6 separate regions of the Homo sapiens genome follow, and regions 1, 2, 4, 5 and 6 are each reported to be linked to region 3. The links are microRNA targets in miRTarBase. Many come from high-throughput screens and were not tested one by one. Region 3 holds a microRNA gene; each other region holds the end of a gene's coding sequence.

Region 1 (5,065 bases), not on the chromosome of region 3:
TCAGCCTCCCAAGTAGCTGGGACTACAGGTGCGTGCCACCATGCCTGGCTAATTTTTTGTATTTTTAGTAGAGACAGGGTTTCACCATGTTAGCCAGGATGGTCTCTATCTCCTGACCTCGTGATCCGCCCGCCTTGGCCTCCCAAAGTGCTGGGATTACAGGCATGAGCCACTGTGCCCAGCCTGGAAACAGTCCTTTTTAGAAACCAGCCACCACACTGTGAGGAAGCCCAAGCTGCCATGTGGCAAGGCCCTGCCAAGCATTCAGGTAGAGCCACACCACCTGCCACTCATATGAGGGAGGCCATTTTGGACTCTGGGAGAGTCATCCTAGTGGCCCAGCTACCAAGCAGGGAGCGGAAGAATAGCTGGTCAAATCATAGAATCATGAGAAATAATACATGCTTGTTGCTTTAAGCAATGAAGTTTTGGAGTGATTTGTTACATAGTACTAAATAGCACAAACATTTTTCTGCCCGAAGTCCAATTCTTTCCTGTGCCCAGAGCCTCTCTAGCTGGCATGAAGTGTCCTTCCCGAGACCTGTTCAGTTCTGCCCTGAAACTTTCTGTGGCTGGCTCCTACCAAGCTCTTCCCAAGATCAGAACATATCCTCCAGCCCCAAACCGCCTTCACTGGCTGATGCCCTGTGAGGGTCTCTGGGTCAGACAGGACTGGGGTTTGCAAGTGAGGGATGAGGCACAACTGTCCCTGGCCACCAAGGAGAGCCAAGCACAGGATTGTTCCCCAGGCAGGTGTAAGTTTCGTGTGGTGGCATCTGGGTCAGAGTGCAATCTGTCTGCTGGGAACATGGTCTTGTTTGAGCAACCTTCTTGCTTCCCTGCCTTCTTTACACATCTATTGAGCACCTACTGTGGGCCCTTCCTCCCAGAGGTGCTAGGGGAGACAGTAGAGGTGATGAGGTCACTGTCCTGGCTCTTGGGGTTCCACAGATGGGTGGGGGAGAAAGCCCAGATGTGACCAATCACACTCAAGGTATCAAGTGCTGCGAGAGCTGTGGGGGTGTCCACAGAGGCCTCTCTGGGAGTAGGGGTGTCCCAGCCGTTGGGCACAGAAGAGGGGTCTGGCATCTGCAGACTGCATTGTGACCAGGGATGAAACTGGAGCACAGGGGCCTGTGGGGGTGGGGTGGGCTGGGTGGTGAGGAGCCTCGAAAGCCAGAGCGAGAGCACCCTGGGACCTAGCCCTGGGGAGCCAGGAAGTGACAGGAGAGGACCTGCTTCAGGTACGTGTCTCCAGCAGAAGAGACAGGTGAACGGAAGGACACACAGATGGACAGAGAGCAGGAAAGGGTCCAGGGAAACAGGGAAGAGGAAAAAGGCGTTTCGGCAGCACTTGGACGCGGTCACTGTGGTCATTGCCGCACCTTGGCTGCAGGGGGCTGCTTGCCTGGGCCCACAAGACCAGACCAACAGAAAGTGCCTCTGCCCAGGAAACTTACTGCCCGATGCTGGGAAAGAAGGAAATGTCTTCATTAAATCATCAAAGTGAGGGTGCGCAAACCACCCTGAAGCAATTCTGACCGAGAAGATGCTGCATCAACTTGGGGTGGGGGGACAACTGAGCCCCTTGCGTTTCCGTGGCGACCTTACTCTTCTGTCCTCCCAGGCCAAATATCAAAGTTCGAGAGGCCACAACTATGTCAGTCAGGGTGTGTGGGAATCAGCTGGCACATTGCAGGAGGTAATATGAGGACGATTTAATCAAGGACCATTTACAGAGGTGGGGGTGTACGTGAGGCAGTACAGCTCTAGCTCAGAAGCTGGTAACAGCTGGACACCACACCCACCCCCGCAAACATATCCTGGAGGCCCGAAGGGGCAAGGGAAGGGAGCTGTGGAGAACGACAGTCCACCATGGGCAGGTTCTCCCGTCCTGTGAAGCTTATGCCCAGCAAACCTGGTCTTCCTAATGGACCCCAATGCTGTCTGCCCGACCACAGGCTGCATTTAGTGGACCAGGCTGGGGGCCGCAGTCGGGAGAAGGGCCTTCCTGAGTACGCAAAGCTATAACTACAAGAATGGCCACTGCAGCACCATTGGCAAGAGCTAAAAGCTGGACACAAGCCGGATGGCCCGCGGATGGGGAGGGTCAAATGAACTACAATCCATCCACATGAAAACTGGGCGCTGCTACAGGAAGGAGGCTCCTTGTGTGCCATCAGGGAGAGGCCTTGGCGCCAGCTCCCTAGGAAGGCAGGCTGCCAGGCAGTATGTCCAGAAGGAGCTCACTCTGGTGAAAACAACAAACAAGCCATCAACACTAGCTGTGCAGGCAAAGGCACAGAGTCCAGAAGGAATAGTCCTGACTGTTAGCAGAGCTAACAGTCTTTCCTGCTCTCTGTCCATCTGTGTGTCCTTCCATTCATCCATCTCTTCTGCTGGAGACACTTCAGGGGCGCAGCTAATGTGGCGGGGGGGGGGCTTTCACCTTGTATTTTATATGCTTTGTACTGTCTTTGTTCACACTAAACATACAACCCCTTTAAAAGTCATTTATGGAGGCCGGACGCGGTGGCTCAGGCCTGTAATCCCAGCACTTTGGGAGGCCGAGGCGGGCAGATCACGAGGTCAGATCATCGAGACCATCCTGGCTAACACGGTGAAACCTCTCTCTACTAAAAATATAAAAAATTAGCCCGGCATGGTCACACGTGCCTGTAGTCCCAGCTACTCGGGAGGCTGAGGCAGGAGAATGGCATGAACCCGGAAGGGGAAGCTTGCAGTGAGCCAAGATCGTGCCATTGCACGCCAGCCTGGGTGACAGAGACTCCATCCCGCCGCCCAAAAGAAAACATAAAAATGAATAAAATCATTTATGGCCGGGCATGGTGGCTCACCCTTGTAATCCCAGCACTTCGGGAGGCCGAGGTGGGCAGGTCACCTGAGATCAGGAGTCCGAGAGCAGCCTGACCAACATGGAGAAACCCCATCTCTACTAAAAATACAAAATTAGCCAGGCATGGTGGTGCATGCCTGTAATCCCAGCTACTTGGGAGGCTGAGGCAGGAGAATCGCTTCAACCTGGGAGGCAGAGGTTGCACTGAGCCGAGATTACGCCATTGCACTCCAGCCTGGGCAACAAGGGTGAAACTCCATCTCAAAAAAAAAAAAAAGTCATTTATATAAAAAACTACAAAAAATATGTTGAAGGGGGAATGAATAGAAAAAGATGCCAGTGTTCTTCCCTAACTGGTATTTGGCAATCGCTGAGCTGAACATTTACAGGGCAGCTGCAGTGTGCCAGGCCCTAGGAGAGCAGTACTGATCAGAAGGCTGCCTGCAAGGTGCTCGCCATCTACGGGAAGCAACAGCACGAGACGGGTGGGATGAGTGGGCATAGCCAGGTGACAGGGGCCTGGGGCTGTGGGGCTGGTTCATAGCAGTGAGAAAACCCTGTGGATGAGCATACTGGGCAGAGAGGCTGGGGAATGTGTGGGGTATTTCTGTCTGCTCTGCATGTGCAGGAGGCGGTGTTGGAGACAGGAACATGCTAGACTTGGCAGGGCCTCTGAAGTCCTCTAAAGGTGCATGGACACCATTACAAAGGTCCTAAGAGATGTATAGGCCAATGAGAGAGGGATGGAGAGGCAGCAGTGGGCACAGGCCCAGCATGAGTGCCAGAGGAGGGCAGTGCCATGTTCAAGGGCTGCAGAGTGAGTTACCCTAGGACAGCTGTGCAGTCTGCCTCCCGCAGCACACAGGTAAATGCACTGTCCAGGTGGGCCAGAAAGGCCTGAGTGGTTGTTCTGCACATCCTGGCCCACGGACCAGGAGGGCAGGACCTAGGGATCTCAGAGGTGCCAGAGATAGCCCTTCAGCCAGAACAGGTCTAAGAGACATTTTGTCCATTGTCCTCCAGAGGTGCTGGTCTGCCCAGGAACCTTGAGCATCCGTGGCAGAAGGACAGTGAGGCCTGAAGCTCTGAGACCCAGAACCATAAGTCCTGCTGACAACAGAAAACTCCCAGGGGGAATGGCAGGTGGCCTCTCCTTCAGGTGCTGACTTTGACAAGTCCAGGTTGCCTGGAACACTGTGACGGATCCTGGGGACACATCCAAGATCGCTGGGAAAGAGTGCAGGGTTGACTGCTGATGTGGGCCATGGCCGAGTAGTATAGACCGACGCAGGAGTTTGCAGTTCTGAGGCCTCTTGAGGCCAAAGGTGACTGTCTGATGACCCTGCAAATGGACTGGCCTTTTATGGGATCACCACAGTGCCTGCACTGGCCCGGTGGTGTGGGGCTCCCAGGCAGCCAGTGGGGGCCTTTTCTAGTGCCCAACCTGCAACGGACAAGTGACTGTGCCCTGGAGCTGAGCCCGGTGGGTGGGTGGAGGGACTGGAACATGGGCCTACAGCTTGAGGGCGACACGCTGCAGAGCTTGGGCTCCAGTCTCCACACCACAGTCACGGAAATTCCTGTCCGTGTGTGTGCAGGGAGCGGAGGCCTTCCACGCAGGCCCCAGTTAGCAGCAGCCCAGGCTGGAGGGCCTCTTGCTCTCCTGGGTCTCGGGCGGACTCCCTTCCATTTCTGTAAGGAGGGGAGAAGTAATTTAGCATCAACCAGGAATCCTGTAGCTGACACTGGGCAGGGGATGCCGGCCCTGACAGTCAGAGCTGTGAGCTGAAGCTTCTGGGCCTGCTGTTCAAGGCCTGAATGGCCTGACACAAGCCAAGAGAGGGCCTTCCAGGCACTGGAACAGAGAGGGCAAAGGTGCAGACTGGGAGAGCCGGGGCCAGGACACATCTGCAGAGCCTGGGACGCCCAGCCTGGGCTATGAGGACCTCATGGATGCCCATGAGGTCCATGTGTCAGGAGAACAGGGAGGGCTAGGGAGGGTGTCTGACCTGGCAGGTGGAATCAGAGGGGCTACAGGCCTGAGGCTGCAGTGACACCCTGAGAGGAGGGTCAAAGGACAGGAGAGGGCCACAAGTTCAGGAAATGGCAAGGCCTCAGGTGACGAGGATGGCGCATGTGGATTTTAGGCCTCCAGCCTACTCCCCAGCCCAACCCAGTCACACCTATACTCACGGATTAGGTCTCCAT
Region 2 (5,063 bases), not on the chromosome of region 3:
GTTTTAGACACTCAATAAAGAATTCATTAAGATGATTCTCACAACGCACTCATCAAAACAGCCTTAAATATTGTTAAAAAGCGCATTGAAGCGCCTGTCCTGAGTTCTAACAGGTTTTAAATTTAGATTGCCAAACAATTACTTTTATTTTTGTATCAAGTTAGGCCACATGGCTTTAAAAAAAAAAAATCTTGACTATCTCTTCCCATTCTGAAGCCAAATTATTACTTTACTAATTTACTTAAAGTTTCCACCTCACCACAGAAAATGTCCAAGATTCATCTATGATTAAAACAGAAAAGACATGCCAAGTTTTCAGGCTTTCAAAATACATAGATCAGCCTATCAATGGGTTTACGTTGCCAACAAGTTTCGGAACTGCAGCAGAGGGCTGCCACATAAAATCACCAGCACGGAGCACGTGTCAATTGTAAACCGCTGGTTCAATTATCCGTGGCTAAAATAAATGTACCACCAATGGCTGCATTAGTCTACATGTTGAGGGGGTGTGGGGTAAGGTAAACAACTCCAGAAATCCAGTTCTATATTGAGAACCTGGTTAACGCCATCAGCCCCTTCTTTTCCCAAATGTACTACTGAAATCTGATGGTTTATCGAAAGGAAAAAGCCACAGAAAAGAAACCTGTCCATCTGCAGCAAAAGCTTGCTGGCTTCGCATCCCAGGGGTGGGGGCTGGGGAGGAGGCTCGCCCAGAGCGGGAGGCTGGGGGGCGGGTGAGAGGCCCGAGTTCTCAGTCGGGGGGCCGGGGGAGGGGTGGTGGTAAGATCGAGTAAGGCAAAAGCAAGCGGGAGGGGAGGCGGGAAGGGCGCCGGGGCCCCTCTGGCCTAGCAGCTGCAGTTACTGTGCGGACGCTTCCATTCGGTCTCGCCAAATCTCAGTAAAAATGGAAGGCCAAACCTCGGTCAATCATCTCAGTAGGTGAAAGAGTCGTGGTGATTTTGCAGTGAGTTTCAATCAGCCACTGAAAACCTCCTCCGCTGCGGGCGCCGCAGCTCGGGAGGCTGAACTCCGGGGCTGGCACGCTGGGCCCCGAGCGGCCTCCCAGCCTCCCTCCTCCCAGACCCAGCAGAAAAGAGGCGGCGGATGCTCGGAAGGGGGGCGGGAGCCCGGGGCGCGCGTGCCCGGCCGCGATCGCCTGCTCGGGCCTGCCGCGAGGGCTCGGGGACACAGGCCGGTCAGGAAAAATGGTGGGGAGCGAGGGGGTGTGGACAGGCAAACGGGGTTCAGCGAGCGGGGAGCGCCAGCGGGATGGGTCGCGCCCGCGCCGCCGCCGGAGCCCCCAGGAGGCTCCCGGAGAACAATCAAGATGCGGATCCACCTTCGTTGCGGCGGCCCCGGGGAGCTGATTCCGGGGCAGCCCCTGAGCCGGCGCGCGGGGAGGGCGTGGTGAGGGCCCGGGGTGCGCGGGTGCGGCAGCCGCCTGCTCCCCGGGTTTGCTTTCTTCCTCTCACCCCGCAGCCCCGAGGCTTCCCTCCCCGGCCCGCGGGCCCGGGAAGCCAGCGCTGGTGTCTCCGCGCGCCTCAAGGGCCCGCGGCGGGGCGCGCCCAGGAGCACGCGGTGGCGAGGCAAGAAGAGCCAGGCACGGGGACCCGGAGCGTCAGGGCTCTGCCTTGCGCGTCCCGGACTACCGCCCGGGTGCCCTCTGCCACCCCCTGCTCCCCACGCCCTCACCAGTGGTTCGGCCCTCCCAGGCACCCCGGAGACCGCGACTCGGATCGCACAGAGGCCATGCCATGTTCCTCGGGGTGCCCTCGGCCGGCCTGCCGCGTCTTCCCCCGACTCCCGCCTCCCTCCCGCTCGTAGCCTGGGTCCCGCCGCGCCCCGCGCCCCCTGCGGCCCCGCACCGTCCTCCTTCCCTCCGACAGCTCCACGGCCCCGGGGGACAGAAGGAAACAGACACCGACCACTTCTCTCCTTTCCTCTTCCCCTTCCCCCTTCACCGCTAGAGGTCAAACACTGCGGCGGCGTTCTCCGCCAACAACCACCTCTGAGCACACGCGAAGATGCAGCGTTAAAAATAAAGAACAGAAAAAATTCAAATCTGGAAACGGCTGTCCCCACCCTTTGAGAGGCGGGGATAGAAGTGCCCCGAGCGCTCGCTGCCAAAGGCGGCTGTCACCGCGAGGCTCAGCGGGGACGCGGCCCGCCGCAGAGAACACACAAGCCCCAGCGAGCAGGACCCCGACCAAGGGAGCTGGCAACCCAGGCCCCTCCATCCGCCCCTCCCCGGCCAGCTCCCGAGCCTCCGCGCAGCCCGCCCGCCAGGATGGGTGGGGAGAAGAGGCAGGGAGTGGAGGAGGAGGTGAGAAAGGAAATGGGGAGCTGGAGATGGAAAGGGAGGGCAGAGAGAAAGAACACCCTTCCCCTGTCTTTCACAACTAGCGGAAGAGGAAAAAGAAATCAGCCTGCTAATTGAACACTTTTCAGCCTAACCCCCTAAATGTAGAATTCTCTCCTGCCACCTCCCCTCATCCGCGCACACAACAGCCTCACCACCGAATGCTCTGCGACAACAGGACCTCCAGTTTGACTTCCATAGAGACTATTGGCGATGCGAGTTTCTATCAGTTCCAGCTGATTTATTAAAATTGTCAAGATACAGACTTCCAGCACAAAAAAAAAAAAAAAAAAACAGGCAATGATGTCGACAGTGCATTGAGTCTGCTTTGCCACCATTTGCTACAAAATATGCAGATGGTCTGTACTTTATTTAGATTATATTGCACAAAATGAGAAACTTTTTAAACTATGTGCCTTTTTTTTTTCTTTTTTGCTAAAAATCGAGAATCCAGTTTCAAACCTTCCATCTGGGGCCCCATCCACATCACAGCGTATGAGATACATAAAGTCCTACTATAGTACAGTACATATACAATCTTTAAACTAAGATAACAGCTCTGAGGTCTATATCACCATTTTCAATAAATCTTTACCTACAAATATTGAACAAATCTCTACTATAGCTGTACAAAAAAAAGTTTGCTTTTTTTTTTTAAACCACAAGGCCTTTAGATGCAAGGATTATTTTAAAATTTTAATCCTTTTTAAACCAGGACATAACGTACCAACATACTTGCATGCTAAAAAACAGAGGAAAAAAAAGAAATCAAAAGGGAAGAAGTGCCTGAAAGTCTTACTGAAAAAACACAGCAAGAATGTTCCCTTTTCACTGTACAAAAATACGCCTGAAAATATATTAATTTTTAAAAAAGACTGAGGTCTGTTATGTATCAAAAATGTTTCAATACCTTTTGTACTGAGGTCTAGGCTGTCTGGTATTCAATCAAGGAGGTATAAGGGAACAAGTTACAAAAAAAAAGTTGGCAAGTAGAAATCACATTTGTAAAACCATAAACAATTTGATCTGAAAAGTAAACTCTGATCTTAAGTCAGTTCACAGTTTTTTTTTTTGTAAGCGTTTGTACAGTCTGCATTTTTTCAAGCTCCCTGCAGTTTTGTTAAGAATCGGATGCATAGAAGACATCAGTTTTCTCCCTCCAAAAAAAAAAAAAAAAAAAAAAAAAAAAAAAATTAAATTAACAAAAGTTGCAATGGTCCCTTTTTTTGTTAAAAAAAAATCACCAGTTCTTTAAGTTCTCTTAAGAAAAAAAAATATCTCCACCAACTCCCTAGAGTAACAGTTGTGCTGCCAAAAGGGTCCTCTGCAGACGTCTTCCAGACTTCAAAGACCGACAAGCTTCAAACAGCGCCTTCCGGAGCGGGTCCTACCTCCCCTCCCCCGCCCCGCCCCCTCTGCCTTTGTTGCAATCACGAATTTCAGGAAAAAGAAATAGTAATTACAAAAACACATTTTTTGGGAAAATAATCACAACTCCAGACTAGGTATGCAACTACCTTGAGACACGATAAAGGAAGGGAGGGGGGACAAAAAAAGGACAGGAAAAATGTTTAAAAACTACTCATTTCACTTTAACTCCACCAAAATTTTCATCATGTTTTCCAATTTCTTTGCGTCACGACATCTTATCAATATCATCAGCATCTTCTTCTCTCCCCTCCACCCTACCACCGCCACCATCAACACCACCATCATCATCATCATTATCATCATCATCATCACCACTACAACTTCCTCCCAAGGAACCCAGCTCTGCACCCTCCGAGAGAAAGAGCGAGCAGCGGGCGCCTTTCAATATGTGAACACCAGGTCGGAGAAGTTCGCCTCCAGCCAGTCCCCCGCGATCATCTCGCTCAGCTCCGGCGTGCAGTAGTCGGGGAACTCGAAGTGGGAGCCCAGGCTGCCCTCGCTGAACGAATCCAAATCCTTATCCACCAGCGACAGGGACAGGTTCCCGGCCGCCGCGCCGCCCCCCAGCTGCTGCTCGCTGGCGCTGTGCGCGCTTTGAGAGAAATTCAAGCTCAGGTCGAACATCAGGTCGTCGGCGTCCTCGCCGCTGCTGCCGCTGCTGCTGCCGCTGCTGCTGGACGAGGAGGTGGACACCGAGCGCGAGGACGCGGGCGACAGCGCGGGCTGCGCGAGCGGCGGCGGGTGCTGCTTGGTGATGTTCTTGAAGCTGTAGTAGAGGCGGCTGCCGCCCCCGGCGCCCGAGGTCGCGCCGGCCCGCACCTCGTCGTAGAGGCTCGCTCCCTCGGGGGACTCCGCCGAGCTGCTCAGCGTAGGGCTGGCGGGCACTTTGGCGACGTTGTAGCGTCTCAGCAGCTGCGACGGCTGCTGCCCCGGCGGCTGCAGGAGCTGCTGGTGCGGTGGTTCCTCGTCCTCCTCGTCCGGCTCCTGTTTGATCTGCAGCTGCAGCTCGTCGTCGTCGTCGTCGTCGTCGTCGTCCTCATCCAGAAACACGCACTTGACCGTCTTGCCCGCGCCGCCGCCGCCCGAGCCGCTCACGCGCAGGCTGCCCAGCACGTAGTCGTCGCCCGCGCCCCCGTAGTCCCCGGACTGGGCCGCCTTGCCCGCGCCCGCCTTGGCGCCCGCGGCCGCGGGGGCCTTGAGCTTGCCGCATTTCTTGCTGGAGCCCTTGGAGGTCTTGGCACCGCCCGCGCCTCCGCCCGCGCTCCCGCCGCCG
Region 3 (5,071 bases):
TGGGCAACACAGTGAGACCCTGTTTCAAAAAAATTTAAAAAGCGGAGGCTGCACGGGGTGGCTTATGCCTGTAATCCCAGCACTTTGGGATGCCAAGGCAGGCAGATCACATGAGCCCAGGAGTTCGAGACCAGCCTGGGCACCCTGGCAAGACCTTGTCTCCAAGAAATTTAAAAATTAGGTGGATGTGATGGCGTGTGCCTGTAGTCTCAGCTGCTTTGGAGGTTGAGGTGGGAGGGTTGCTTGAGCCTAGGAGGTGGAGGCTGCAGTGAGCCATGATCTTGCCACTGCACTCCAACCTGTGTGACAGAGCAAGACCCTGTCTCAGAAGAAAAGCCACAGGCCGGGTACAGTGGCTTATGTCTATAATCCTAGCACTTTGGGAGGCTGAGGCGGGCGGATTGCCTGAGGTCAGGAGTTTGAGACCAGTCTGGCTAACATGGTGAAACCCTGTCTCTACTAAAAATACAAAAATATTAGCTGGGTATGGTGGCACATACCTGTAGTCCCAGCTACTCGGGAGGCTGAGGCAGGAGAATCGCTTGAACCTGGGAGGCGGAGGTTGCGGTGAGATGAGATTGCGCCGCTGCACTCCAGCCTGGGTGACAGAGCGAGACTCTGTCTCAAAAAAAAACACAAAAAAATGGGGTGCCCAGGCTGGGCGCGGTGGTTCATACCTGTAATCCCAGCACTTTGGGAGGCCAAGGTGGGCAGATCACGAGGTCAGGAGCTTGAGACCAGCCTGGCTGGTCTCAAAAAAAAAATGGGGTACCTGCTGTGTGGTATGCATCTGTGTTACAGCTAAGTTGGTCAGCCTGGCCAGGATGGGGGCTAGCCCATGGGCTGAGATCTGGGCACCTTCCCGCCCCGCCTGCCTCATGCCCCTGCGACCAGGTGCACTGTCTCCCCACAAGGGGACCGGGCAGGCACAGAGGCGGAGGATATGCTGTGGCTGGTCCACCTGTCTCAGGGGGAAGCATGTCCTTCACTGGTGACACCTAGGCCGGAGGAGGAGAGGGCAGGGCCACGGACTTGCTCTGGGCTCTAAGACTGAGGCCCTGGGCTCAGCTTAGGCTGCAGAGCTCACGGGGCTGGGGCCAGGCTGTGAGGTACACAGGGCCAGGCTCCTTCCTGTCCTTGGTCACAGGGCCACCCCCTTAACCCTCGGGACTACTGTGGCTGGACACCTCTGCACGAGGCCTGCAACTACGGGCATCTAGGTGAGCAAGGGACAGAAGGAGCCTGGCGCACCTTGGTGGACACGTGGGGCGAAGAGTCAGTCCTGGCGGGGCATCGGGAGCTGGGCTTACGTCTCCTGGTCTGCAGAAATTGTCCGCTTCCTGCTGGACCACGGGGCCGCAGTGGACGACCCAGGTGGCCAGGGCTGCGAAGGCATCACCCCCCTCCACGATGCCCTCAACTGTGGCCACTTCGAGGTGGCTGAGCTGCTGCTTGAACGGGGGGCGTCCGTCACCCTCCGCACTCGAAAGGTGAGCCTGGTGGGGCAGAGGGCAAGGGCGAGGTTATGGGGGCTGCTGTGCCCCTGCTCAACTGATGCCACACAGGGCCTCAGCCCGCTGGAGACGCTGCAGCAGTGGGTGAAGCTGTACCGCAGGGACCTGGACCTGGAGACGCGGCAGAAGGCCAGGGCCATGGAGATGCTGCTCCAGGCGGCTGCCTCGGGCCAAGGCAAGCAGGGCGTCCCTTGTCCCTGGGGTTGCTGTGCCTACGCTGAGAGTCCCCGGGCCCTGATTTCGGGAGATGCTCCATCACAGGTGGAGCGGGAGGTGCCGGGCCCCTGCCTCAACACGCATTCTCTCTCCCACAGATCCCCACAGCTCCCAGGCCTTCCACACCCCAAGCAGCCTTCTGTTTGACCCCGAGACCTCTCCTCCTTTGAGCCCCTGCCCAGAACCCCCCTCTAATAGCACTAGACTCCCAGAGGCCTCTCAGGCCCATGTCAGGGTCTCCCCAGGGCAGGCGGCACCAGCCATGGCCAGGCCTCGGAGGAGCAGGCATGGGCCAGCCAGCAGCAGCAGCAGCTCAGAAGGCGAGGACAGCGCAGGCCCCGCACGGCCGTCCCAGAAGAGGCCTCGGTGCTCGGCCACAGCACAACGGGTGGCAGCCTGGACGCCTGGCCCCGCCAGCAACAGGGAAGCAGCCACAGCCAGCACCAGCCGGGCAGCCTACCAGGCAGCCATCCGGGGTGTGGGCAGTGCTCAGAGCCGGCTGGGGCCTGGCCCACCGCGGGGCCACAGCAAAGCCCTTGCCCCCCAGGCAGCGCTCATCCCGGAGGAGGAGTGCCTGGCCGGGGACTGGCTGGAGCTGGACATGCCCCTGACCCGCAGCCGCCGGCCCCGCCCCCGGGGCACTGGAGACAACCGCAGGCCCAGTAGTACCTCTGGGTCGGACAGTGAGGAGAGCAGGCCCCGTGCCCGAGCCAAGCAGGTCCGCCTGACCTGCATGCAGAGTTGCAGTGCGCCAGTTAACGCAGGGCCCAGCAGCCTGGCTTCAGAACCTCCAGGGAGCCCCAGCACCCCCAGGGTCTCAGAGCCCAGTGGGGACAGCTCTGCGGCAGGCCAGCCCTTGGTGGGTATGCAGACCTGGAGCAGAGCCCTCTCCCCACTCCGGGCAGGCAGGTGTAGGGTGGAGCCCACTGTGGCTCCTGACTCAGCCCTGCTGCCTTCACCTGCCAGGGTCCGGCCCCGCCCCCTCCCATCCGGGTTCGAGTTCAAGTTCAGGATCATCTCTTCCTCATCCCTGTCCCACACAGGTGAGGCATCGCCTGCCCTACCCCGCAGCCCACCTGTGCAGCTCCATGCCAGGGTGCTCGTGTTTGCATGTCAGGGTGGGGCGTGTGACGAGGGCTCCCTGGTGTGTTCCAGGAGGATCCTGTGGCCCCCAGGAATAGCAGAGGGGCTGGTGGTGTGCTGGGCTGCAGGGAGAGGAGGGGCCGGCTACCTGGGAATGGGAGAAGCAGCTGAGGGGGCTTCTGGCCCTGGGCAGGGATGGCGGGTCCCTGGGGCATTACCCCGGCTGTGTGCAGGCAGCAGCAGCAGCGCCTCTGTCCCTGCAGCAGTGACACCCACTCTGTGGCCTGGCTGGCCGAGCAGGCGGCCCAGCGCTACTACCAGACCTGCGGGCTGCTGCCCAGGCTCACCCTACGGAAAGAGGGGGCCCTGCTGGCCCCACAGGACCTCATCCCTGATGTGCTGCAGAGCAATGACGAGGTGAGCCGCAGAGCGGAGGGGGAGCCAGGGCCTCAGGCACCGGGAGCCCCCGGGTGGCTCATGGCTGCAGAGCAATGATGAGGTGAGCCGGGGGAGCCCCCAGGTGGCTCATGACGGTGCCTTCCAGGTGTTGGCTGAGGTGACTTCGTGGGACCTGCCCCCGTTGACTGACCGCTACCGCAGGGCCTGCCAGAGCCTGGGGCAAGGTGAGGGCCAGGAGAGCTGCAGTTTCTGGGTGAGGTCGTACAAGGGGGTTGGGCACACAGGCTCCACCAGCCCGGTTCATTCCTGGGCCTCGGGTGTTTTGGGGTGCACCTCCCCCAGCCTGGTGGGTGCTGTGTCCTGCACTTGGATGTGTGGGTGGAAGGGAGAGGACAGCCCTCAGCCCCCATGATCTGCTGACAGGGAGATGGCAAAAAGCAGCCGAAAGCCTGGAAAGTCAAACCCAAGGAGGAGGGCCTGGCATGGGCTGGGAGCTGCTGGGGAAGCTTCCCAGAAAGCTTGTCCCGGGGGGTGTGGAATCTGGCAGTGACTGGTGGAGCTCAGGGTGCTGCAGACCCACCCCGGCCCCCAGGGCCTCACAGTGCTAGACCCACAGGCATGTGCGAGTGGGCTCTACAGCAAGTCTGGTGGGTGACCCCTGGGGCTGTTGAAAAGGGGCTGCCTGGTTTGCCCTCTGGGATTCAGAGGGCAGAAAGGGCCGGCCTTACCCTGGTGACATCACATCCCTCCCGCAGGGGAGCACCAACAGGTGCTGCAGGCCGTGGAGCTCCAGGGCTTGGGCCTCTCGTTCAGCGCCTGCTCCCTGGCCCTGGACCAGGCCCAGCTTACACCCCTGCTGCGGGCCCTCAAGCTGCACACAGCACTCCGGGAGCTGCGCCTGGCAGGGAACCGGCTGGGGGACAAGTGTGTGGCTGAGCTGGTGGCTGCCCTGGGCACCATGCCCAGCCTGGCCCTCCTTGACCTCTCCTCCAATCACCTGGGTCCCGAAGGCCTGCGCCAGCTTGCCATGGGGCTCCCAGGCCAAGCCACCTTGCAGGTATAGGCACAGAGAGCAGCAGGCCCTCAACAGCGGGGAGTTGGGGTTCCCATTCTGCAGGTCCCTGGGTGGTCTAGGGTAGTTGGGAGAGCCAGCCAGTGCCCGGCTGTAATAGGCTATGCCAGGCAAGGTGGGGAAGAGACTGCCAAGCCAAGCCCCAAGGGGGACCCTGTCCGTGGGACTGCTGGGGGCTCACTGCCAGCCTGTGTCTTCCACAGAGTTTGGAGGAGCTGGACTTAAGCATGAACCCCCTGGGGGACGGCTGTGGCCAGTCCCTGGCCTCCCTCCTGCACGCCTGCCCCTTACTCAGCACCCTGCGCCTGCAGGCGTGTGGCTTCGGCCCCAGCTTCTTTCTGAGCCACCAGACAGCACTGGGTAGTGCTTTCCAAGGTGAGCTGACCAGGCACTCCCTGTCCACTCCCTAGCCCTGGGGCATTGAGGGTTTCCAGGACTTTCAGAGGGGGCCCAGGCTGGGCACACAGGGGCAACACCTGTGGTCCCAGCTACTTGAGAGGCTGAGGCGGGAGTATCGCTTGAGCCAAGAGTTCCAGGAAAGCCTGGCCCACATAGTGAGACCCCATCCCTTAAGAAAAAAGCGTCTAGGCCGGGCGCAGTGGCTCACGCCTGTAATCCCAGCACTTTGGGAGGCCAAGGCGGGCAGATCACGAGGTCAGGATATCGAGACCATCCTGGCTAACACGGTGAAACGCCGTCTCTATTAAAAATACAATTAGCTGGGCGTGGTGGCCGGTGCCTGTAGTCCCAGCTACGCAGGAGGCTGAGGCAGGAGAATGGCATGAAC
Region 4 (5,067 bases), not on the chromosome of region 3:
AGTTCTCTTCTGTTTAAGCGATGACAAAAGACAAATAATTGTAGAGGAAGCAAAGCAGATCTTGGTGGGTGACATTGGTGATACTGTAGAGGACCCCTACACATCTTTTGTGAAGTTGCTACCTCTGAATGATTGCCGATATGCTTTGTACGATGCCACATACGAAACAAAAGAGTCTAAGAAAGAAGACCTAGTATTTATATTCTGGTGTGTAAAAACAAAAGAAAAAAGTACTTTTAAAATGCAAGGATTATTATTATCATAGTCAGTCTTACCTTTGTTTTTCTTATAAATGGGATTCAATAATTTTTTTTTTTTCTGTAGGGCTCCTGAAAGTGCACCTTTAAAAAGCAAGATGATTTATGCTAGCTCTAAAGATGCCATTAAAAAGAAATTTACAGGTACAAACTTGAATATTTGGGGCAGAGAAATTATTCTTTATTAATTATAATAAAGTAATAGGATAATGTTTTTTCTTTTTAGGTATTAAACATGAGTGGCAAGTAAATGGCTTGGATGATATTAAGGACCGTTCGACACTTGGAGAGAAATTGGGAGGCAATGTAGTAGTTTCACTTGAAGGAAAACCATTATAAAATGACAGTCAAGTGCCATCTGGATCTTAAGGAGCTTCCATTTCTCCAGCTCAGTCCATTGGAATAGTATTAGGTTTTGGTTTTTTGTTGTATTTCCCCCTTTCCACTGGGCCCTTCCAACACAATGAATGAAGGAAATATCATTTATTTAAGCAGCCTATCAGTGATTGCCATTAGACTGTTGAATACTGTTACTTTTATATAGAACCCAAGGAATGCCTTCCTGTCATATTTTAGCCAAAACAACTGGTTATATGCCTCCCTTGCAGCAAGCACTACAATGTATGTGATCGTCAATGTGAATAGCTTAGAATACTGCAAAGGATAAGCTAATTGAATGCCTTGAAAGTATTATCCACTGGTCAGATGGTCAACTTTTTTCAGTATTATTTATAGTTGGCACTTGATTGCAGTTCTGTGAGGCTTGAGCATTCATACACCTCACCTGCCTTGGCAAGCCTATTTTAGTGATATGGCAGCACGGATATAACACTATGCATTAAAAGCACTTTTTGTAATAAGTTTAATATCCTAAAAGGAATGCCAATTAAGTTTTGTTAACTGTGTCATCAACTTATCCTAGTACCTCAGTGTTCATTCCTGTTACCTGCATATCTTCTTAAAAGAAATAGCTGTTATTAATGCCTTTTTGTTTTCCATTGAGTGTACACTACTGAATAAGTGTAGGAGTTTTATGTTTACCATGTGAGTCCTGCAACACTAAAGATATTTTGAATATCAGTCATGATGGCAATTTCTGTATAAAAGAGCCTTAAATGGAACATTGTTTTGAGATCAAACTCCCCACCCTCACAAAAATGGCCACGTTGCAATAAAAATTGTGGCATATTACAGAACGTTGCCTTGTTTTCCTTGGAAATTTTGCAAAATGTTATGTGAAACAACTTCTAGGGTAAAAACAGCTATTACTAATCTCTGCACTGGTCATTTGAGAATTTTTTTTGTACAGCATTCATGTGTGATATTTTCCAGATTTGTTGGATCTATTTGGTTTAAAAAGTATTCTATCTTAAGGCCAACTAATATAAAATACCATTGTTAAAGAATGGTACTTTTATAAACATTAGTGTATTTATTTCCTATGTGTTAATATGAAGATCAGAAATTATTTTTTGCACTTTGGCATAAATACTTTTCAATATCTGATTTGTTCTCTGGATAAATTAGCATAGTTATTTTTTTATTCACATTTACATTTCTAAGTAGTTGTATAGTAGAAGCAGGAAGCTCTTATTGCTTATTTGGTCGTAATGAAAATAATTTGTAAAATGTCCTTTAAAAGTTTAATGATACTTCTGATGTTTCGGAACAGTCATTTCACCTACTATTTCTGAATATATTTTGCAAATTGAATTGGAATAGGAATTGATAATAGCAGTCTTAAACATTAGTAGTGGGATTTGGCTATGGTCCAGACTGTGCTCCTTATAGAGAATTTGATCTGCTCAGTGTGAGCGGTTTGCTGTTAGCCAGGGCTATTTATGGCAAACACATGCTTTTGTATCTTGTCATAGTTATCCACAAATGGCAAAACTGGACTTGATTCTACTGGTATGCAAAACAGGCATGCTAGTAAGCAGTCAGTCGTGGCTCAGAACTTAACCCCATAGCTCAGAGGAATGCTTTTAGCAGAAAACAGGAAAGAAAATATCCCTTAAAAATTTTTTTTGAATGTGTGGAAGTAATTTTAGTATAATTAGATTTTTTCCATATTTTTGAAAGATTTTTCAGATGTGAACATTAAAAATAGGGATTAAATGTCTAGGCTTCCATTTAAAATTATATGAATGGTTTGGGATCTTTTTGCACTGAGCAATTTTATTTCAGGCTTCCAGCTGTCCCTGTGAGTTATCCTGGACATTTCGATGGTTTTTGGTAAGGCCAAACTCTGATAAGCAAAACAGAGAATACTGACGTATACTTAACCATATGTGTAACTGATACTTGGCACCATGGAATTTTTCATTGAGTTATTTCCTCATTCTTTTAAAAAATAAGGGACTATAAATCAGTTATGTAGTATCTTTTGTTTTTGTAGCTGATTCCTTAACTTTCTTGTATGCCTCTAGTAATTTCAGAGATTAAATATTGCTTTAAACTGTGATACTTTGATTTGCTAGATTGACAAAACTGATACTAATATAATTAAGTTCATCTTTGAAATACATCTTTGTGCGTAGAGCCAAAAAAAGAGATAAAATTAATAATAGTTCACTTGTTATTTGAGATTAATTTGGCATTTGAAATGATCATTTTATTTTACAATCATTTATAATGAATCAATGTTCCAGTTAGCTTTAAAAGGTATACGGTGCTAATTAGTAAAATATTGAAGGCAATATTTTACTGCTAGCTTGCAAAGTTATGAGAGTTTAAAAAATAAAATATATGAAAATATGTAAAGCTGTTGAGATGTGTTTACTTATACTTCAGAACATTAAAAGTTTAAAAACTGGTATTTCAGATCAAAGAGGCATCATTATCTTTATTCTGTTTTTCAGGATTTTAGTTGGTAATACTTTCTCATTTATCAATAACAATTTTCTTTAAAAACTGAGTGTTACAGCAATTAATTTTAGCATTTTCAGACAAATGGGAACAGTTGGCATGTGTCCCAAACTGGCTATCAGCTGTTGTTTTCCATCATTATCTAAAATAGTGTGGCCAGCATTGTGTATTGAAATGTGCCTTTTTCGTACATTGGAAGAGAAGCCTCTTACTGGGTTTGAGTTTCTCTGATACAGAACATTTGTAGCAGCTAATTTATGGAATCTGGCAAATAAGCTTTGGGAGGAAATTCTTTTAAAAGTGTTTTCTTGTTAAGGAATAATCTCAACAATGGTAAATCATCAAGAGGTTGAGAAGACTCTTAGGTTTGCCACTCAGAAAAAACAGTCTCATTTTGCTCTTCATAGGTCCTGTTTTTGCTTGCACATTTAATAGTAGGTGGAGATGCAAAACAACGTGAATGTTCATTTTTTTATGAATAGTATTAAAGCTACTAGAGGTGGGCAGGCAGGTCCCAGTAAATGTTGCCTTTTTTTTTTTTTTTTTTTGAGACAGGGTCTCACTCTGTTGCCCAGGCTGGAGTGCAGTGTCAAAATTTCAGCTCACTTCAAACTCAACCTTCCCAGCTCAGATGATCCTCCCACCTCAGCCTCCCAAGTAGCTGGGACTACAGGCATGCACCACCATGCCTAATTTTTTTTTTTTTTTTTTTTGTATCTCTTTTGTAGAGACTGAGTTTGGCCATGTTGCCTAGGCTGATCTCCAACTCCTGGGCTCAAGCTGTCCTCTGACCTCCGCCTCCCAAAAGTGCTAGGATTGCATGCATGAGCCACCACTTCAAAAGCTCAAATACTGCTTTTGAAGACAGCATGAGTTTATGGATGTTCTGTCTCCTTTCAGCCCATAAAGAAGTCTGAGGCTTTTCTTTTGCTCTGGAACATCCAACTAATTGCTTTATTTCCATGTAGAAGTAGAGGAATCATCCCTCCACTTAAATTTCCTCTCATAATGCAATTTGGCAAATTAAATCTCTAAATCTCAGTTTTTTAACCCATAGTATGGGAACGGTAATATCTGTTTACCATGTTTCCTGAGTACTAAATATGGAAATGGTTTTTGAAAACAGGAAAATGCTATGTAAATGCAATAATCTGTTTAAACTATTCATTCTTAATTACTGTATGTAAGTAGATAAATATTAAATGTTTTTGTTAAAAGATGTATTACAGATCATTGAACCTCTATTTTTGTAACTTCCGTGTGTGTACATATATATATGTATATATATATGTATATATACACACATACACACACATTTTTTTCTTCTTTTTTGGACAGGGTTTCACTCTATTGCCCAGGCTGCTGTGCAGTGGCACAATCATAGCTCAATATAACCTTGAACTCCTGGGCTCAAGTGATCCTCCCACCTCAAGCTCCTGAGCAGCTGGGATTATAGACATACACCACCATGCCCAGCTAATTTTTTTTTTTTTTTTTTTTTTGAGACAAAGTCTCACTGTATCACCCACGCTGGAGGGCGGTGGTGTGATCTCGGCTCACTGCAACCTCTGCCTCCTGGGTTCAAGCAATTCTCCTGCCTCAGCCTCCCGAATAGCTGGGACTACAGGCATATGCCACCACACCTGGCTAATTTTTGTATTTTTAATACAGATGGGATTTCACCATGTTGGCCAGGCTGGTCTCAAACTCCTGACCTCAGGTGATCTGCCTGCCTCAGCCTCCCAAAGTGCTGGGATTACAGGCATGAGCCACCATGCCCGGCCTGCCCAGCTAATTTAAAAAAAAAAAAATTGTTGAGACGGGGTCTCACTGTGTTGTCTAGGCTAGTCTTGAATTCCTGGCCTTAAGCAATCCACCCATCTCAACTTCCCAAAGCACTGGGATTATAGGTGTGAACCACTGGGCTGAGCCTATTTAGTGT
Region 5 (5,071 bases), not on the chromosome of region 3:
TTTTATTTTTTTTGAGTCAGAGTTTGGCTCTTGTTGCCCAGGCTGGAGTGCAATGGCATGATCTTGGCTCACCACAACCTCCGCCTCCCGGGTTCAAGCGATTCTTCTGCCTCAGCCTCTGGAGTAGCTGGGATTACAGGCACCCACCACCATGCCTGGCTAATATTTGTATTTTTAGTAGAGACAGGGTTTTAGCATGTTGGCCAGGCTGGTCTTGAACTCCTGACTTCGTGATCCGCCCACCTTGGCCTCCCAAAGTGCTGGGATTACAGGCGTGAGCCACTGCACCTGGCCCCCCGGGTTTTTTTTTTTGTAAGCAAATTTACTTTATTTCCTCCTGCCTCGATTCTTGGTAATTTTTTGGGTCAAATTTATTAATCAAACATTGTCCTGATTTAAAATCATGCAGTGAAGCTTAGGAGCAACCAGTGTCTTCCACGAGTTTAAGGAAGGTTTTTCTTTCTTCTTGGCGTCTTGACAACAGCTTGAGGGAGGGTGTGGGAAGCGCACAGGCCCCATACCCATACCCGACAGAGGGCCGAGCCCAGCCCCGACAGCTTCCCTTCCTTGCTGGGACACAGCTCCTTTCAGCAGTTCAGGGGCCAAGCCTGCTGCCCCAAGGGTGTGGATTCCAGCTCTGCCTGCACAGCTCCTGCTGGTGCCAAAGCCGTGTCACCCCTGGTTGGCCCCGTGACCAGGGCTCGAGGGATTGTGCTGTGGTGTCTGAGTGTTTTGTTTTGGTTTTCTTCAGCAAAGTGAAGGTGCTTTTTAAGTTCACCAAGGTGGACAGTCGACCCAAAGAGGACACACAGAAGCTGCTGAGCATCCTGGGTGCGTCCGAGGAGGACAATGTCAAGCTGCTGAAGTTCTGGATGACTGGCCTGAGCAAGACCTACAAGTCACACCTCATGTCCACGGTCCGCAGCCCCACAGCCTCGGAGTCTCGGAACTGACCCGTCACACACACCTGCCTAAAGACAGGGATGGCTGTCCACAGGATCCTCCAGCCCCGTGAGAGGGACTGTCCCTTGAGTTTCTCAACTGCTGGAAGGAGCTGTGTCCCAGCAAGGAAGGGAAACCATCAGGGCTGGGCTCGGCCCTGTCAGGTTTGGGGCCTGTGTGCTTCCCAGACTCTCCCTCCAGCCGTTGGAATCGCTGAAGATGGCAATGAAAGGCGGAGGGATGATGGGCTCTCTCTGTGTTCAAACTCCTTGGAGAGACGACTAGGAGGACAGCTTGCCTCCCAGGCCCCTTGTGGACTTAGACTCAAAACCCGCAGGAGAAACAGGTCCGACTCAGTATGCAGTCGCAATAACATGTCTGCTCCCGAGGTTAACATTCAAGCGTTTCTACTTTGAAATTCAGCAAGAGTTTCTGGGCCTTATGTTTGAGGGTACCTTTTGCTGCAGTTGTGAATATTCAGTACATTGCCAGCTCTTGGTCACTGAGTGATTGAGTTAGGGCTCCGCAAGAGACTTTGGGGAGTGAAGTGGATCTCTTCCTCATCTTTTGGTCCTCTGAAATGTGTGTTCTGAAGCCATGGGGCTCGTCTTCTGGGGTGTTCCCCTGCAGGTGCTGGTGAAGGTAACCTGGGGCTTAATGATGGAGTCCCTGATCATTTTTGCACAAGACAGGTTGCTGAGGGGTCGGCAAGCATCTGACTTGCCCAATCCCCTGGATATGGTGAGCCCCGCCATGCTTTTATTCTGTATCGCTTTTGTCTTTATTGCTGCTTTCAACATTTACGTTTGGTTACAGTTAACTATTTTCGGAGTGTGGTGATTGAAGACAATTTCATCATCCCACTGTACTTTTTTTTTTGAGAGGGAGTTTCACTCTTGTTGCCCAGGCTGGAGTGCAATGGCACGATCTTGGCTCACTGCAACCTCTGCCTCCTGGGTTCAAGCAATTCTCCTGCCTCAGCCTCCAGAGTAGCTGGAACTACAGGTGCCCGCCACTATGCCCAGCTAATTTTTGTATTTTTTAGTAGAGACGGGGTTTCACCGTGTTGGCCGGGCTGGTCTCAAACTCCTGACCTCAGGTGATCCACCCACCTCAGCCTCCCAAAGTGCTGGGATTACAAGCGTGAGCCACTGTGCCTGGCCCTTTTTTTTTTTTTTTTTTTTTTTTTTAAAGAGATGGCATCTTGCTATGTCGTCCAGGCTGGTCTTGAACTCCTGAGTTCAAGCAGTCCTCCTGCTTCAACATACAGCTACAGGTACCCCCCACTATACATTTTTAATAAGGATTCATGGCTCAGAGGGATTTTCTGATGGTTTTGCTGATTTGTTTCTAGTTTTTTTGTGTTTATATTTAACATGAAGACCAAGTTTATATAACTAGGTATCTGTATAATGCAACAACATTGGAACACAATAAAGATGTATTTTTGTAAATTGTTACTACATGGTTTTATTGGTTTGATGCCTACTATTTATTTGCGCTCAGGCACAGGAAATACTATGGTTAAAAAATACCAGTGAGTCAGCCGGGCGCAGTGGCTCATGCCTGTAATCTCAGCACTTTGGGAGGCTGAGGCAGGCGGATCACGAGGTCAGGAGATCGACACCATCCTGGCTAATACGGTGAAACCCTGTCTGTACTAAAAATATAAAAAATTAGCCAGGCATGGTGACAGATGCCTGTAGTCCCAGCTACTCAGGAAGCTGAGGCAGGAGAATCACTTGAACCCGGGAGGCAGAGGTTGCAGTGAGCCAAGATCACACCACTGCACTCCAGCCTGGGCAACAGAGTGAGACTCCATCTCAAAAAACAAAACAAAATACCAGTGAGTGGCCAATTCGCACAGTTAAGCTGCTATAATGATCGTAGACAATCTTCTCCAAGTTAGTCGTTGGAGTTGGTGTTGGAGAGAAGCAAACACTCATTTATCCCAAGGACATCTGTTGAGTACCTATGCCCATGTGCTTTTCATTTTGTTCAGCATTAGAAATGGCTCATCCCTTAATAATGATGATATTTAAAAGACATGTCCATCTGAGAGGAAGATGGCTGGAATCACCCTGGGTGACCGTGGCAATCCCTAAAACAGCAGGTTCACGGTTTAGTCATCTACCTCGAGTGGGAGGGGACCCCCTGGCCAATGTGGGTCAAGGGAGAGATGACCACCCACTGTCCTCCCCGGCTTCGGGTACAGATTCCTGTCTTTCTCTCGTGCATGGCATTCCTGGGAACGTGGTTCTATGCTCAGTTTTTGCCAGTTGTCTGCCAGTCTAGTGGCTGAATCCACTTGGCAAGTAGGAGCCCAGTGTAAGTTAGCTCTGCATTCACTTCAGGGGCATGTGTGACCTGGATTTCCCATGTCTAACAGAGCTTGCTGGCGAGGGGGCAGGCAAGGCCCTATGCCGACTGGTGGTTTTGTTTTTGTTTTTGTTTTTTGAGACAGAGTCTTGCTCCGTTGCCAGGCTGTAGTGCAGTGGTGTGATCTCGGCTCACTGCAAGCTCCGACTCCCTGGTTCAAGCAATTCAGCCTCAGCCTCCCGAGTAACTGGGATTACAGGTACATGCCACCACACCCGGCTAATTTTTGTATTTTTAGTAGAGATGGGGTTTCATCATGTTGGCCAGACTGGTCTCGAACTCCTGACCTCGTGATCCGCCCGCCTCGGCCTCCTAAAGTGCTGGAATTAGAGGGGTGAGCCACCGCACCCAGCTGCCAACTGGTGTTTCTAGGCAGCTGTGGGCTTTTTCTCCCCACAGGCATGCAGTTCTTGAAGATTTTTCCTATTGGTCATGAGTGCAGAAGAGCAGGAGGCTGAGCTGAACCTATGCCAGCCCAAGACCAGGCCAGACTCTGCTGTCCTTGTGAGGGAATAGGGGTTCCTGATTTTGTAGCTTTTCACAAAATGGAAGAGACAGAAAACAAGTTCCAGATCTTGAACCTTCCCCATGTGTTTGAAGGCAGTCAAGGGTTTCCTGATTTTACATTCAAGATACTTACACTCAGGGCCGGGCATGGTGGCTCACGCCTGTAATCCCAGCACTTTGGGAGGCCGAGGCAGGAGGATCACCTGAGCCCAGGAGTTTGATACCAGCCTGGCCAACATGGTGAAACCCCGTCTCTACTAAAAATACAAAAAAAAAAATTAGCCAGGCTGGTGGTGTACGCCTGTAGTCCCAGCTACTCAGGAGGCTGAGGCAGGAGAATCACTTGAGCTCTTATATATTGTGGAAATTAACCCCTTATCTGATAATATAGTTTGTATAAGCTTTTAAAAAATAAATTGTATATATTTAAGGTATACGACATGATGTTAATGACATACACACACATATTAAAATGGTTATTATAGCCAGGCACTGTGGCTCACACCTGTAATCCCAGCACTTTGGGAGGCCAAGGTGGGCGGATCACCTGAGGTCAGGTGTTCGAGACCAGCCTGGCCAACATGGTGAACTCCCATCTCTACTAAAAGTACAAAAATTAGCTAGGCGTGGTGTCAGGCACCTGTAATCCCAGCTGCTCAGGAGGCTGAGGCAGGAGAATCGCTTGAACCAGGGAGGTGGAGGTTGCAGTGAGCTGAGATGGCCCCATGGCACTCCTGTCTGGGCAGCAAAGCGAGACTCTGTCTCAAAAAATAAAAAATAAACACAAACGGCCAGGCACGGTGGCTCACACCTGTAATCCCAGCACTTTGGGAGGCCAAGGTGGGCGGATCACCTGATGTGAGGTGTTCGAGACCAGCCTGGCCAACATGGTGAAACCCCGTCTCCACTAAACATACAAAAATTAGCCGGGCGTGGTGGTGGGTGCCTGTAATCCCAGCTACTCTGGAGGCTGAGGCAGGAGAATTGCTTGAATCTGGGAGACGGAGGTTGCCGTGAGCCAAGATCACGTCACTGCTGACAGAGCAAGACTCCATCTGAAAAATAAATGAATAAAAAACTAGGCCGGGCACGGTGGCTCACGCCTGTAATCCCAGCACTTTGGGAGGCCGAGGAGGGCAGATAGTGAGGTCAGGAGATCGAGACCATCCTGGCTAACATAGTGAAACCCCATCTCTACTAAAAATACGAAAAATTAGCTGGGCGTGGTGGCGGGCACCTGTAG
Region 6 (5,070 bases), not on the chromosome of region 3:
GAGGGGACGCACGTGTACCTGGAGGGCTTTCCTTCTGTCCCAGACCCTGTCAGCCGCGGCTCTCGCCTGAGAACTGGGGACGGGGTGGCGCAGTGGCGGGGGGGTGGGGACCCGCTAGACCTGGCAGGGGGTCGAGGCTTGCCCGGGTGCTGCGGCTGCAGGAGAGCCAGCCGCCTGGCGGGAGGGCTGCCCGCGGTGGGCTAGGAGAAGGGCCGCTGAGCGCTCAGCGGGCTGGGGTCGCCCGGGTCTCACGTGTCTCTCTCCCCCCTCTCCTCGCACTTGCCCCCTCCCCTCCCTCCAGACGCCCCCCGCACCCGCAAGAAGCGCTGCCCTTATTCGAAATTCCAGATCCGGGAACTGGAGCGAGAGTTTTTCTTCAACGTGTATATCAACAAAGAGAAGCGGCTGCAGCTGTCCCGGATGCTGAACCTGACGGACCGACAAGTGAAAATTTGGTTTCAGAACAGAAGGATGAAAGAAAAGAAACTGAGCAGAGACCGGCTGCAGTATTTCTCGGGAAATCCTCTGCTGTAACCTGCAGACCGGGCCCTTTTGGGGGCGGGGGGAGGGGAAAATTATTTTATTTTATTTTTATTTTTTATTTTCTAACTCGTCTTCTTTCCGCCGGTGGAAAACTGGACTGTGGCCAGGGCTGGCCCCCACCGCTGTGGCCGGCACTCCATTCCGGAACCTCCTGGACCCTCTATCTGACTCTCGCTGTGGGACAGGGACCGGGCCTGGAAAGGGGGTGAAGGGAAGTGTCTGATGCACGGCGAGTGAACACCGTTGGCGCCGAGGCCAAGACTTTGATTTAAAAGAAAACACACCTCGGCGACAATGTCTTGCTGCTCGGATTAGGTGGGGGAGGGGCGACAGTAGTGAGCGCCTGAGCCGAACAATCCTCGAACTAAAAGCCTTCCCTTGCCCATGTGAAAAGATCCGCTAAGACAGCATGTCTGCCAGCGGAAACTTCTCGAGCTCCCCCCTCTACCCCGCCCCACCTTGCAGCTAAATGTGATCCTGCCTTGCTGTGAAATTTCTGTACCTTCAACCTGGTGTTAGGTGTGCAAAGTCCGTGTCCTACCTCCGTCTTCGCCAAGGCCCCGCCCGAGCCTAGTTGTTCTCCCCCTGAATGTGTAGAACCTTCCTTTGAAATTTCTTAATCGGTGCATTGAGGTTTCCACATCTTTTTCCAAGCAGTGCCCCACTTCATGGATTTATAGCTATAGTCTATGCAGTCGTTACCTCTTTTTTTTTTTTTTTTAAGAAAATTGAAGATTGGGGTGGTGGAGGCAGTAGGGAGATGGGATTGGGCACCTCCCCCGTGCTGGGGCCTGGATTTTTGTAAATAAATTTCCCAAGCGTTTCTTTCCACCTGGAGGGAAAGGGGGGGACGCCCCCAGTGAGATTCAAATCACGCATCTCTACTCCTCTGCGTGAGTGCGTGTGTACATGTGCACTCCCCACCCTGCTCCCTTCCCAGAGGGATTGCTGTGAAATTTTTTTGGTGGCAAATAAAGATAAATTTCATTCTGTTCAATATTATGATTTTATTTGACCCTTTTATTAACCCCTCTCCTCTTAAAATCCTCCATGCTCCCATGGCAGCGGCGGAGGAGGAGGAGGCAGGCAGGCAGAGCCCAGCGGGTGAGGACAGGCAGGCAGAGGTGAGATAGGCCGGTGCTAGCCGGCCTGGAGCTCCTCTCCGCTGGCAGGGCCAAGAGTATGGCCGTAGTCTCCTCACATTCTCAAGCTGAGGACATTCCATAGCTACTCTGAAGCTCTCCTTTCTCACGTGCAGCTCGAGCTGTGTCCAAACGCCCAGCAACGGCTTTCTGTTTAAGTACACGTTTGTTGTGGAGTTAATTGTAACCATCATCGAATTTAAATTTATAGGAATTTTTTTGGCTCCACCGCCCTTCTGCCAGATGTCTCCGTCTGTCGCAGTTAAATGTGTAGTGTGGAGGTTAGGGCTTTTTTTTTTTTTTCTCTAGGAGAAATCTGTATTGGAATTTTTATACACTGTTTTTAAGGAAGGAGGGGACAGAAGGAGAAACCAGCCCCCTCCCTCTCCTCTCCACAGCTCCTGGGGGTGGGAAGGTGGGGCCTGGCTGCTTTCCCTCTGGCACAAATGGCCAGGCTCTTCCAGACACAACAAGACGCCTATACTGGGGCCACCCTGATGTTTATACATTGGGTGTCCCACAGTAGAAAGCCCCAGAGGTTTGTTTTGTAGGGGTTGGCACTGGGGATGGAGATGACCTGCGGGGACAGTCACCATACCCATCTATATTTGCTGCATGTTTCTTCTGTATAAAGATAATCATGGCCCTTGCAGTGCTTTCAGTGAGGGCACTTCGTTGGTCTCTGTTTCAAATTCGTTATTTGGGGGCAGAGGTTCAGGACAACTCATCTCATCTTTCCCTCCTCTTTCTGTCTTTGTATAATTCAAAGAAAATATTTTTGTCAATACAATTCTGTTGGATGAAAGGAAAAAGCATCATGACTATCAAATCTAGGTTCTGTCATTTTTGATGGTAGGAATCCCTGCAGCTTAGGTATCTAAATTTCTAATTTGTAAACGTGGGTCGGGTCGTGAGACAAGATTTGCAAACTAGGGTGTATATGCAGCCCACAATTCCCTCATGTGCCCACACACAAACGTTTTATTTAACTCGGTGTGCCTATGGGTGCACATAAGAAGGAATATTATTTATATGCTTTTGTCTGTTGCATGGAGTAAACCTGACCACATACACATCTAGAGCTTGTGTCTCTGTGGTGTGTAACCATTGGCAGTGTTTGTTGAGTGTGGGCAGGAATGCAACTGAGGGGCCTCTGTACATTTTTGTGTGTGTATGTGTGTGTGACACTTCTCTAGGTATGATGTTTATCCACTAGCCACATTAGGAAATATTAGCCTGCTGGTGATGTTTCCTGTGAAATTAGGATAGAGGAAACTCTATAAGGTGAACCTATTTATAAAGCAAAATATTAGCCTCCAAATGCCTGATTTTGGAGAAAAATATTTAAAACCCGCAGGTAACACTTTCTCTGCAATGTGGAGCCCAGAAATGTCCTCAGCTCCAAAAGAGAGTTCTGGTGGATGAGAGGAGAAGGTCATCATGAAAGAAAAACAAAGGCTTCTGTGACCCAAGCCAGGAATCTGCCAGTCCTTGGTGACCCTCTAAAAAGGAGGAAAAAGGGTTTTTTGGCCCCCAAACAAACCCACCTTCCGTCTCCCAAGGTGTCCAACCCCCCTTGCAGGTCAGGGGCACTCTGGGCTCAACCTCTTGGGGTAATCCCCTCTAGCCGCAGCACTGCCCGGGAACAAAAGATCCTCGTCTAGACGCTGCCATAAAGCACCCCCTCACGTTTCTAAACCCAGTTTCATTTCGACCTTAACGACCCAGTCTGGCCTGTATTAGAAACCACTTCCGCCCTAAATAGTAAACAAACCTGTAGTGGAGGGTCTTGGCTCTCCCAACACACTCAGACCCCCACCTCCTCAGCCCGTTGCCCCACATTTTTCCTCTTTTCTCCAGCCTTTCTCAGCTCCCAGCACCCCAGCCCCTTTCCTCCCCGCCGCGCCCACCCCACCCCCCCGCCCCAGTAAATAAACCTGAGGCCGAGTTCAAAGTTTCCCGGAGCTAAGGAGGAATGCTGGTTGTAAAAATCCAAGTTTATAGTGCACGTGGGAGTTTACAAGGGTATTAAGTGGTGTGGGCTGAGAGAGCACTCTGGGCCCCTCCCCCTTCCACCATGGGCTTTGGGGTGCAGGAGGAATCAAGGGCACTCGAAATGAGAAATGGGTTTAGGAGTAGCCTTGAGTTTGGGGTTTCTTTGTCACTTAGACTCTTAGGTGGCTGAGGAATGGCGATGCAAGGGCCCCTTGTAAGAAGACTCGAAACCCCTGCCAAGCACCTCTGAGAGAAAACTCCCTGGCTCTAGTTGTCCCAGATGGAAAGATTGGGGAGCCCTGTTCTGGGGGAGCAAAAGGTGCAAACCAGGTGTCTGAAAGGTGAACAGAGTTGGGAATACCTAGAGCCAGTTCTCAACCAGAAGGGGAGAAACTACCTTGGGCTAATTTCTCGAGTGGGCTGAGAGCAGAAAGGGCTCTTCTCTTAAGAGTAAAGAAGAACTTTGAACTTCAAGGGAGTCAAGGGCACCACCCCTTCGCTTTCCCCGCCTCTCTCAGGAATCCGTAGGGCAATTGTTTCTGGGCCAGTATTCCCTGAAGGGGGGAGCTACTGGGGTTTTCTGGTGCCCCAGGGTTGGATAATGCTGTTTGCTAACCCCTCCCTACTGAGAGCCCGCCAGAACCAGTGCACGCGACTGCACTCTTTATTATTCATATAAACCTTTGGAAAAGGCAACGCCCAGGAAGTTTTTATAACTTTGTTTGGCATAAAAATTTTACAAGATTCCCCATCCCTTAAAAAAAAAAAAGTAAGTTTTGGTCTTGCCATAGGATGAAATCACAGGTCTTTGAAAGGCAGGGGAGAGAGGGGCTCTGAGGGGTGGCAGTGCAGGGAAGGGAGTGTATGGAGCTGCCTTTCTCTGTCTAAGGCAAAAAGGCTTGAAGATCTGAGTCAATCCTTCCTAAAGCCCATCTTGGACTCAGCTTTGGAGCCTCTTTGGACAGAGTCCTGTCCACTCTGCTCTTGCACCTTTACAAACTCTAAAAGTTTGGACAATATCAGCATGACAAGACCTTCCCCCATCACACCCTCTTGTTCTCCTGTAGGCACTACTCTCTCTCTCTCCCTCTCTCTCCACACACACACACACACACACACACACACACACACACACACACACATCTCTCTGCACCGCACCCCTCCAACCCACTGCACAAAGCAAAGACCCATAACCTTGACTCAGACTGCTGATTTGGGAGGGTCTCTGCACACATAGCCCTGCCTTCCTGCCTGCCGCCTGTGAAGTCGACAATGGGTTTGAAGAAAGAATCCAAAATACCAGGAAACTCCTGCCCAGAGGTTGCAGTGGTTGCAGGACCAAAGGAGACAGAGGGCCCAGCAGGGCTGCAGTCCAGGAGCAGAGAACAAA

What was found. Region 3 holds the annotated microRNA hsa-miR-6893-5p (CAGGCAGGUGUAGGGUGGAGC, at 2,633-2,653, shown strand). A microRNA usually pairs through its seed, bases 2 to 8, with sites in the 3' UTR of a target mRNA and lowers its output. Matches are read on the target gene's strand: a 7mer-m8 pairs with bases 2 to 8, a 7mer-A1 pairs with bases 2 to 7 and ends in A, and an 8mer does both.
Region 1: the mRNA of RAB36 is a reported target of hsa-miR-6893-5p. Seed matches in the 3' UTR shown: 7mer-m8 at 3,022-3,028, 7mer-m8 at 2,704-2,710, 7mer-m8 at 2,213-2,219 and 7mer-m8 at 748-754.
Region 2: the mRNA of SOX11 is a reported target of hsa-miR-6893-5p. Seed matches in the 3' UTR shown: 7mer-m8 at 2,303-2,309.
Region 4: the mRNA of CFL2 is a reported target of hsa-miR-6893-5p. Seed matches in the 3' UTR shown: 7mer-m8 at 1,041-1,047.
Region 5: miRTarBase lists FLCN as a target of hsa-miR-6893-5p. Seed matches in the 3' UTR shown: 8mer at 967-974 and 7mer-m8 at 1,914-1,920.
Region 6: the mRNA of HOXC11 is a reported target of hsa-miR-6893-5p. Seed matches in the 3' UTR shown: 7mer-m8 at 1,020-1,026.

The regions. Positions count from the first base shown.
Region 1 is chr22:23,160,984-23,166,048 of GRCh38, reverse strand. RAB36 (RAB36, member RAS oncogene family) reads right to left here. Exons shown (of 11, transcript NM_004914.5): 10 at 5,051-5,065; 11 at 386-4,549. The coding sequence ends at 4,485. It also overlaps a transcript of RSPH14 not described here. Among named protein-coding and RNA genes, the nearest start is that of BCR, 17 kb to the left of the region's middle.
Region 2 is chr2:5,693,156-5,698,218 of GRCh38, reverse strand. SOX11 (SRY-box transcription factor 11) reads right to left here. Exons shown (of 1, transcript NM_003108.4): 1 at 1-5,063. The coding sequence ends at 4,172. Among named protein-coding and RNA genes, the nearest start is that of SOX11, 3.3 kb to the right of the region's middle. RefSeq lists silencers at 1,063-1,232, 1,523-1,612.
Region 3 is chr8:144,433,176-144,438,246 of GRCh38, reverse strand. MIR6893 (microRNA 6893) reads left to right here and starts at 2,628; the gene lies at 2,628-2,696. It overlaps TONSL (tonsoku like, DNA repair protein), which reads left to right. Exons shown (of 26, transcript NM_013432.5): 14 at 1,148-1,220; 15 at 1,327-1,490; 16 at 1,566-1,689; 17 at 1,829-2,589; 18 at 2,697-2,773; 19 at 3,077-3,230; 20 at 3,358-3,436; 21 at 3,968-4,269; 22 at 4,488-4,659. It overlaps TONSL-AS1 (TONSL antisense RNA 1), which reads right to left and starts at 3,079. Exons shown (of 6, transcript NR_109770.1): 1 at 2,807-3,079; 2 at 1,252-1,496; 3 at 501-548; 4 at 1-19.
Region 4 is chr14:34,708,394-34,713,460 of GRCh38, reverse strand. CFL2 (cofilin 2) reads left to right here. Exons shown (of 4, transcript NM_138638.5): 2 at 1-207; 3 at 325-401; 4 at 484-4,348. The coding sequence ends at 596. Among named protein-coding and RNA genes, the nearest start is that of CFL2, 3.7 kb to the left of the region's middle.
Region 5 is chr17:17,209,537-17,214,607 of GRCh38, reverse strand. It overlaps FLCN (folliculin), which reads left to right. Exons shown (of 14, transcript NM_144997.7): 14 at 752-2,396. The coding sequence ends at 953. Among named protein-coding and RNA genes, the nearest start is that of PLD6, 5.7 kb to the right of the region's middle.
Region 6 is chr12:53,974,880-53,979,949 of GRCh38, forward strand. It overlaps HOXC11 (homeobox C11), which reads left to right. Exons shown (of 2, transcript NM_014212.4): 2 at 302-2,764. The coding sequence ends at 534. HOTAIR (HOX transcript antisense RNA) reads right to left here and starts at 75. Exons shown (of 7, transcript NR_186241.1): 1 at 19-75. RefSeq lists enhancers at 1-67, 398-547, 4,037-4,551.